2 separate regions of the Homo sapiens genome follow, and region 1 is linked to region 2. Evidence: fine-mapped expression QTL. A gene starts in region 2. The other region holds a variant in brackets. All regions are shown on one strand. Distances are between the middles of the regions. Region 1 overlaps ANKRD10 (ankyrin repeat domain 10). Region 2 holds the start of ANKRD10 (ankyrin repeat domain 10).

Region 1 (4,389 bases), 23 kb after region 2:
ATCAACCTGCAGCTAACAGGATGTCTGCTTTTTTACAGGTTTATTTCACAGAGCAGTGTACATTCTTGTCTTCCAGGGGAACTTCAACATGGAGTTACTTTTGATCCCTCAGTTTTAATTCAGTGTCTAAAGGTTTACAAGTTCAACTTACTCTATTTTATTCAGCTCTTTCACTTACTCTGCCATCACTTCCTACTTGAATCTGAGTTTTAGCTACTGTAGAGGTCTCAGACCTTTCCTTTTTAGTACTATTAGCCAGGTAAAACTTTGGTTCTTGTGAGTGGTAGGGATGAGTTTTTAGGACAGTATTCAAAGCCTTTTTAAAGGAACCAACTACTCAAATGCTCTACAATGCCAAAAATACAATACTCCTGCAGGTTTTCCCAAGCAAGGCCAAAACAATCAAAATCTGACAGAAAAACACAGCTGTTCAGCTCTGGAATCTGATGATAGGCTACTTTTTAATGTCAGGACATCCTTCTAAACTTCCACTTACAGTGTCACATGTAAGCATGAAGGCTGGCTCGTTGGTGAGCCATTGCTTTGTTTTTAGGAAGACAGTTATGAATGCCATGGACAATCTCAGTACATGTTGTTTGTTATGATTTTATTCACGCTAAAGGAATGGGTATTAAAATTAAGTGCATATAATATAGAATTCAGTTTCAAGTCTGAAGTTAGCGTAAATTTAGATTCTTCAGACTAACATAAAACATGATTTTGAGAAGTTAAATAGGAAGATGCCTTTTTTAGAAGTTTAGCATATTTAGTTTATCTCCCAAATCTTGCTTAGAAATCAAATGTATATAAGAGAAGTTAGTTACAGAGCTAGATTGATTAACTACTTCTTTAATGAAGATTTGCTATGAATTTGTTTACTCTTTCATACCACCTTCAGATAGCTAGTCAGTTCAGCAGGAGCAGAGACCAGGTTAGCACGCGGATGGGGTGTAATTCAGTGTTTTTGTGTTGTACAGCCTGAGAAATGCCAGTGGCCTGACAGCAGCAGACATTGCACAAACCCAGGGTTTCCAAGAGTGTGCCCAGTTTCTCTTGAACCTCCAGAATTGTCATCTGAACCATTTCTATAACAATGGCATCTTAAATGGGGGTCATCAGAATGTATTTCCTAATCATATTAGTGTGGGAACAAATCGAAAGAGATGCTTGGAAGACTCAGAAGACTTTGGAGTAAAGAAAGCTAGAACTGAAGGTGAGACCGCTTTGCGGGTGGGAAGAGCACACTTATTTTTCCTTTCTGTAATATGTTTTCTTTTTATGGCTGAGCGCACCTTCGAGATGAGACCTTCACTTCAGGTGGTAATGCGCCTGGTGGATTGTGCGGTGACGGTGGAGATTTCTCCTGTACTGCCACTGCGAAGATGGGACTTAACAAAAGGGAATGTGAGGGAAATACTGATGGCCCAAGTGTAAATGTCTATGTGGAACTTTTTGAGCACCCATGTTTACCTGCCATGAATTAGATTTTTTAATTTGTTGTATCTGTTTGAAATATATCTATTAAAGAAAATCTGCCACTGTGCCTGAATTTTTTTTTTTTTTTAATTTGCTTCTTGTAAATGTTCCTGGGCTTATAAAAATTGCTGATGGTCTGGCAGTAAAACATTTTCACATTCGGGAAGGTGAATGTTTTCTGTACTATTTCTGTACTATGATTTGACCTCAGTGGTCTCTGTACCTCACATGTGTGTTGACTTATCACAGCAAGATCTGGTGTATAATTT[G/C]ATCTTGAGGATTTAAGTCCCTAAGGTAAGTTATTTTCGTTGTAAGTATTCTCCCACCATTTTTTTTTTTTTTTTTTTTGCTCTGTCACCCAGGCTGGAGTGCAATGCTGTGATCTCGGCTCACTGCAACCTCCGGCTCCCAAGTTAAAGCAATTCTCCTGTCTCAGCCTCCCAAGTAGCTGGGATTACAGGTGCATGCTATCACACTGGGCTAATTTGTATTTTTAGTAGAGAAGGGGCTTCACCATGTTGGCCAGGCTGGTCTTGAACTCCTGGCCTCCAGTAAGCCACCTGCCTCGGCCTCCCAAAGTGCTGGGATTACAGGCATGAGCCACTGTGCCTAGCCGTTTTTTGGGTTTTTTGTTTTTTGTTTTTAAGGTAGGTTTGAGTTTGCAAATAAGCAGTCAGCCAGTCACTCTTGAAGTTGAAAACATCTCCCTTTCCTATAGGAAAATCATCTATATCTATATATAAGATGTCTTAGGCCAGTTGTCATGGCTCATACCTGTAATCCCAGCACTTTGGGAGGCTGAGGCAGGAGGATTACTTGAGCTCAGGAGTTCGAGACCAGCCTGGGCAACATAGTGAGACCTTGTCTCTATTTAAAAAAAAAAAAAAAAAAAAGTCTTAATAAGAAGGTAAATGTGATAGCTTGGCAGGCATATTTAGTGAACTTAGGGGGAGAGGTGGGAGTGTGAAGTAATGAAGCAGATTATGAGCTCAGATTTGCTGAGTATAAGCACAAAGTTTTGCCCGTTGGTTTAAAAAAATCAACCGTGCAAGTTACAGCATAAGGAAAACTGAGTGACTATCAGTTAATCACTTAAAAATCTAGAGATTTTGGTTAAATTTCATGAACCAACATCATCTTTTCTACCTTATTTAATGAGTGTGTCCAAGTGAAACATTTTTTCCCTATAAAGTTGATAAAATGTCAGTATTATGTACTTCACAACTATATCTTGTCACCATAAAAATTCCTGTGATAAGACTTTTTATAGTAATGTATGAACTTAACAGTTTTATCAAATTCAAGATTTTTATGAGTTAAGCATTTCTGGAAAGATGCTAAAATCATAAGCATGACATGAAGATCTGCATAAAATTCAAAATGGTCTTTTTTAATGGTGATGTATTCAGCATTGTCATTTATTTGTACCATGTTTTAATATATTTTTTCTAATGTAGTTTCAACGCCTTTTTAAGAGCATCCACTTTTTAAAAAAATCCTTTGTCATTTCCTTTAATTAAAGCCTGGTTAGTATTGTAGAGTGGCCTCATGCCCTCATGCACGAATTGTACATGTCTGTCCCTGTATGTCACTGTATAGTCTAAATGTCCTTGAAAAATGATTTATGCTTCATTTTCTCTTATTGCTGATAAATCTTAAATTCTGTTTAGTATTTTTAAAAAGAGATCACTTAACATGCTAATTGGACTCAAAATGCACCTAGAAGAGTTCGTAAAACTAGTCTCAGAGTTTCTAAGGTCAGTTGAATTGGCCAATACCACATTGCTTAATTACCCTGAAAAGCATTTCTGAGGATTCCTTGTTTCCTAATCCTCGTTAACTACATAAATTTGGTTTAAAGAGTCCTGCTGACTTTGGGGGTTTTATTTTCTTCCTTTAGAAGGAGGATTTGTTTTGGTTGACCAGTGATTAGAAGTTCACATTTTGCACATTAAACTCACCATGCAGCCTTCCCAAACTATACATTCCTGGTCCCAAGCCCGAGGGTGCTAATTTAGACAAAAATATGGTTGGAGCCGGCACTTCTGCTTAAGTGTTGCAGGTAATACGTAGACCTAACAGGTTGAGCCACTGTTGCAGGTACACAGTACATGACTGATGTTTCTGTGATTATCACAGTTGAAATATTTCAGCCAAGATGCACATTACTTCAAAGCTGCTCATCCTTGGTTTTCCTAATTTGTATACTGACCATGACTTTACTAATTTCCTGGAACTTCTGATGGTTCTGTCTTTTATGTAGTTGACAGTCCTTAGATTTGCCACACTCGTCACAAGAGTGTGTTTATATTTTTTTGTGTCTGTGTGAGCATAGATGGGCATCTTTAGCTCACCTGCACTCCCACCACTCGTTTCCCTATGGGAAAAGGTGATTTTTTGCCCCCCTTTTACCATTACATACTGAGAGTGCTGATGTCGGGTATTGGGAGTCATTCTTGGTCATTAAAACAGGATTTTTTTTTCTGCCAATTACCTGAATGTTCTACATGAAATTGTTCTTGGTTTCAATAGATATATAATTATTTCCATATTAACTGACCAGTTTTTTAGTTTTGAATTAAAGATATGTTGCTTTAGTTTTCGTTGTAATTTCTGGCATCTTGTTTTGATTTTGTTTAAATGTGTGTTTTAAGTTTTGCTTAATCTGAATTATTTTATTAGGTTTTTGGTTCTCATGCCAGAGTAAAAGAAATGATAAATTCTTTTTTCCTCATTTAACACATGTATATAAAATACTTTGAGTAACTTCACATATAAAAATATTTAGAAGAGTTTAAGCTGGGTTTTTTGTTTTGTTTGGCTTTAAAAACAAAAAAAGTTACAGGTGCCAGGGATAATATCTTGGCTGCGTAACTTGTATCTTACCAATAAAACTTAGTGCGTTCTGTTTTC
Region 2 (4,389 bases):
GTTTATCAGCAAGGTCTTCATGACCTGTATCTTGTGCTGACCTCCTATCTCATCCTGTGACTTAGAATGCCTTAACTATCTGGGAATGCAGCCCAATAGGTCTCAGCCTCATCTTACCCAGCCCCATTTAAGATGGAGTAGTTCTAGTTGGAATGCATCTGACAATTATCAGAGTTGAGCAAAATCTGGGTGACCAACCAATTAGATCACTGGCATTGGGAATAGTCAGTAGACACCATCCTATCCACAATCCTCCTGCCACAGTTACAGGATCTGTCTTGGGGATCCATCACCACGTATATATGTCAGTCTACTCCTGTACAGCTAAATAAATATGTATATAGTCTAAATAATCCTTTAAAAAACCCAGTCATCTGAAGTGAGGAAAGACGTACACGAAGTACCCTATCACTATAACCTATTTTATCTTCCTAGCCCTTAATACTCTATGCAAAATAAATTCCAAAGTTAAAAAAAATCTAACAGTGGGTTGGAACCTAGGTCTGGATATTATTCTAAGCTCTGCCACAGGCATGCAGTTTGCCCTTGGACAAATTCCTTGACTTACCACCATCTCTGTTTCACCATTCCCAGAATGCAGCCTAGCAAGTAATCCCTCCCTTTCATTACATGGAGGACAAGATACACTCACGTCCTTTCGCAAAATGGGACACCTCTCTCCTAAGAAAGATGGAAATCAGGGGGATATATTTTAAAGAGATTAGATTAAAATCAACATGGCATGTGAGAAGAAAAATGATTACGTTCTAGAGTAAACAAAACCTGAAATGAGTTTATAGTCTATTCTCACCCTTTTGGTCCAAACAAAAAAGTATTGCTTGATTATTCTTTCCTGCTTCACTAACAGATTACAAACTCCCTGGGAGAAGATAGATTCTATGTGTCATATTTTCCATTCATTAGCAATTGCTCACTGAATTGAAATATTTGCTACTTCCCCACTATAGAGTGTTTCTCAATGTGTTTCATTCAGCATTGTACTCAACAAATGTTTGCTGTATGAAGACATGTCTGTGTTGAGTGTTTACACCACTAGTTAACAACTTCCCTTTGTTAAATCTTAGGTTTCTATTTTTTCGTTTTATTAACCAATGCTGCAATATGCTTTCTCGTGCATCAGTACTTCCCTAGACATCTAATTGCCTTGTTCAATTTGTGACGTAGAATTTTGCAAAAAGGAAGTTTACACAGCGAAAAACTATATATACAAATGAAATAAAATACATGATTTAAAAAGACCGCATATTTAGAAGCAAAGGAAATATTCATAAACATTGTGGTTATTCCTCAATAGTGAAATTACTGATGCTTTCATAATCAGAATAAAATTACATATGTAATAAAGTCCGTGATACTGTCATTCAAAATAGGGGATTTGGTACTCCCTTACATTTATACAGTTCTCAACAAAAAGCCTTTTATTGTTTGCTCTGTCTGGTCTTCTCGCTTATCTCTTAAACTTGCAAACGTATAGTCCTAGCCCACCGCACTCGGTTCCGAAGAAGGCGTCCCTCGGACAAAACCGAGGAATCTGTCCTGCTCTGTAAGGAACTAGGGCTTGCTGATTCCCAGATTTTAACGAGAATCCCTGCTCCCCGTAGGCGCTCCATAAATTTTTACTGGACAACTTCACCGCGCGCTACTGGGCCTCCGGGAGACCCGTGACTCCCACCCGCTCTGGGCGCGGGCCCGCAGAGCCTCAACCCGCGCCCCCGGCAGCCGGGATTCCCCGCCCGGACCGGCTCCCAGGCTGGAAACATCATGGTCCGCACCCGGGGCGCAGCCGAGACCCACCGCGCCGGAGGCCCCGGGACCCGCTCAGACCGCTGCTTGGCCACTCTACGCCCCTGAGCCCCCCACACAGCCAGCCCCGTGACCTCCGAGCCCCGTGACCTCCGAGCCCCGTGACCTCCAAGCCCCGGAAGCCGCTGTAGGCAGCGGCCCAGCCAGGCCCCGCCCCCTCCACCGGAGCTCCACGCGTCAATTCCAGCCAGGCCCCGCCCCCGGCCGCCCCAGGCGTGGACCCAAGCCAGGCCCCGCCCTCTGCCTGGCTACTCCAGGCGCCCACCGCCCCAGGCGTCCTCTAGCCCAAGCCCAATGCCCGGCTGCTCCAGACGTCGACAGCCCCATGCCCCGCCTCCTAATCGGCTGCTGCTGGCGTCCTCTGGTCCAGGCTCCGCTCCCTACCCGGCTGCTCCAGGCATCCTCTAGGCTAGACCCCGCCACCTACCGGCCGCTCCAGGCGTCCGCAGCTCCAAGCCCCGCCCTCCGCCCGGCTGCTCCAGGCGGCCTCCGGCTCAAGCCCCGCCCCCTGCCCGGCGGCTCCAGAGGTCCGCGGCTCCAGGCCCCGACCCCTGCCCGGCTGCACAAGGCGTCCTCTGGGCCAGGCCCCGCCCCCAGCCCGGCCGCTCCAGGCCCCGCCCCGCCCCCTCTGTGCGCGCTCCGCTCGGCAGCCTGTGGGACGCGACCGCGGCGCTAGTCTCGTTCCTTTGTGCTGCGGCGGCGGCTTCTCGAGTCCTCCCCGACGCGTCCTCTAGGCCAGCGAGCCCCGCGCTCTCCGGTGACGGACCATGTCGGCGGCGGGAGCGGGCGCGGGCGTAGAGGCGGGCTTCTCCAGCGAGGAGCTGCTCTCGCTCCGTTTCCCGCTGCACCGCGCCTGCCGCGACGGGGACCTGGCCACGCTCTGCTCGCTGCTGCAGCAGACACCCCACGCCCACCTGGCCTCTGAGGACTCCTTCTATGGCTGGACGCCCGTGCACTGGGCCGCGCATTTCGGCAAGGTGGGTGCGAACGCTTTAAGGCGCCATTTTCCCCGGCTGTCCAGTGGGAGTCGGGGAAAGCGGGTCTGAGGTGCGGGGGACGTGGGGCGTGCCGGGATCGCGGGGCGGAAGCGGGATCGACGGCGCCTGTGCCCCGAGGGGCCTAGGGCGCCTGTGCGGCAGCGCTCGCGGCCCGGAGTCGCGGCGGGGCAGCCGGGGGGCGCGGGGCGGAAGCGAGGTCGGTGGCGCCTGCGTCCGGAGGGGCCTAGGGCGCATGTGCGGCGGCGCGCGTAGCAAGTTTCTAACAAGGCGGGCTCCAAGGGTCCCGGCGCCTGTTGGCCGGATCCTGTGCGAGCGCGCGCGCGCGCGGATGGTGCGGGGCCCTCCAGGCCGGGCCGGAGGCGCGAGCGATTTCGCAGAGCCGGGTATTAGGCCGCGAAGTCGCCCAGGCGGCTTCCGGGGAGCCGAGCTGGGGTCAGAGGCGCGCGGGGAATGCCCGGGCGCGGTCGACCTTCTGGTTCCGCACAGCCTCGCCAGTAGCCGAGGGCCGCGCTGCGGACGAGCTCAGCCGAGGAGCAAGCGCCCCGGCGGGACTGGAAGGCCCCGGCAGCTGTGTGGGATGGAGGCCGGCTCTCCAGCTTCTGGGTTTGCTTTAAGGCTTGTAGCTGGCCCCGCTTCAGCAAAATTAGTGACGGCTGTGTTTATCTTGGATCTAAATTACTGCAGAAGTGGTTAAATTAAGCAGAATTCTCTTCCCGTGGAGGCTTTACGTTCCCCTCTTTTTTCTTAAACTGAAAATTCTGGGGGAACACAGTGCTGCTTTAAGGTTTTAAAAGGTTGGATAGCTACCGTTTCCTCATCTGTGAAGTCGTTGGGGTACTTGCTCTCAGAAATCTTAAATAAGATTTCACCGTGCATTTCAGAAGTGACTGGTTTTAATTAATATTTCTTAATTCACTGAAATTCAGGGATGTGTATAGTGTTTTTCTCGTAAGTGATGAGATGGGGTTAAATGGTTTTGCAGAAATATGTGAGAGGTAATGTGAAATAAGTTACTTTAAGAAGGCCTGGCCCTGGTAATGTCGTTACCAGCTGATGAAGTTGCGGTTTACCTTGCTGCCCCTGGTGCTACATTCACAAAGCAGCTGTGTCTTTTGGAAAGCAGTTTCTGATTCTTTTAAAGTGGAAAAGTCACTTTTCTTTCAATAAAAGAAATGAAAAGGAGTTTTGACGATCGGGGTGGGACAAGCAAGTTAATCAGTCCTCAAGGGCTGTTAGGTTCCTGTGGCACTGTCTCTGAAGTTGTGCAACCGTAGTACCTGCTGGAGAAAACAGGTGCCCAGGGGAAATGAGTTTCTTAACAAACAAAAGTAATAAAGCCTCCTCCCTGCGCTTCTGCGTGCAGCCTTAAATAGATTTCCCGAGGCAGTCAGTAATCTGAGGATTTCCTCCCTCCAGAGTGTCTCTTGCTGTGGTTTATTTTTACACTAAACTTTAGGATTCTGTCCTTTCTACCCTGGTTGAGAACGACACAATACTGGGTGATAGTCAGTGAACAACGATCTGTAGAATGCTTAAAGCCTCATTACAGATGGTCACTTAGAAAATT

Evidence for each region.
Region 1: its variant is fine-mapped to the expression of ANKRD10 in whole blood (INTERVAL, PIP 0.90).

Annotation. Positions count from the first base shown.
Region 1 is chr13:110,889,852-110,894,240 of GRCh38, reverse strand. ANKRD10 (ankyrin repeat domain 10) reads left to right here. Exons shown (of 6, transcript NM_017664.4): 4 at 978-1,213. Among named protein-coding and RNA genes, the nearest start is that of PRECSIT, 22 kb to the right of the region's middle. The variant G/C (reference allele first, on the strand shown) is at 1,746.
Region 2 is chr13:110,913,137-110,917,525 of GRCh38, reverse strand. It overlaps ANKRD10 (ankyrin repeat domain 10), which reads left to right and starts at 2,457. Exons shown (of 6, transcript NM_017664.4): 1 at 2,457-2,801. The coding sequence starts at 2,592. RefSeq lists silencers at 1,616-1,775, 1,906-2,565, 2,836-3,205 and enhancers at 1,143-1,817, 3,316-3,445, 3,169-3,845.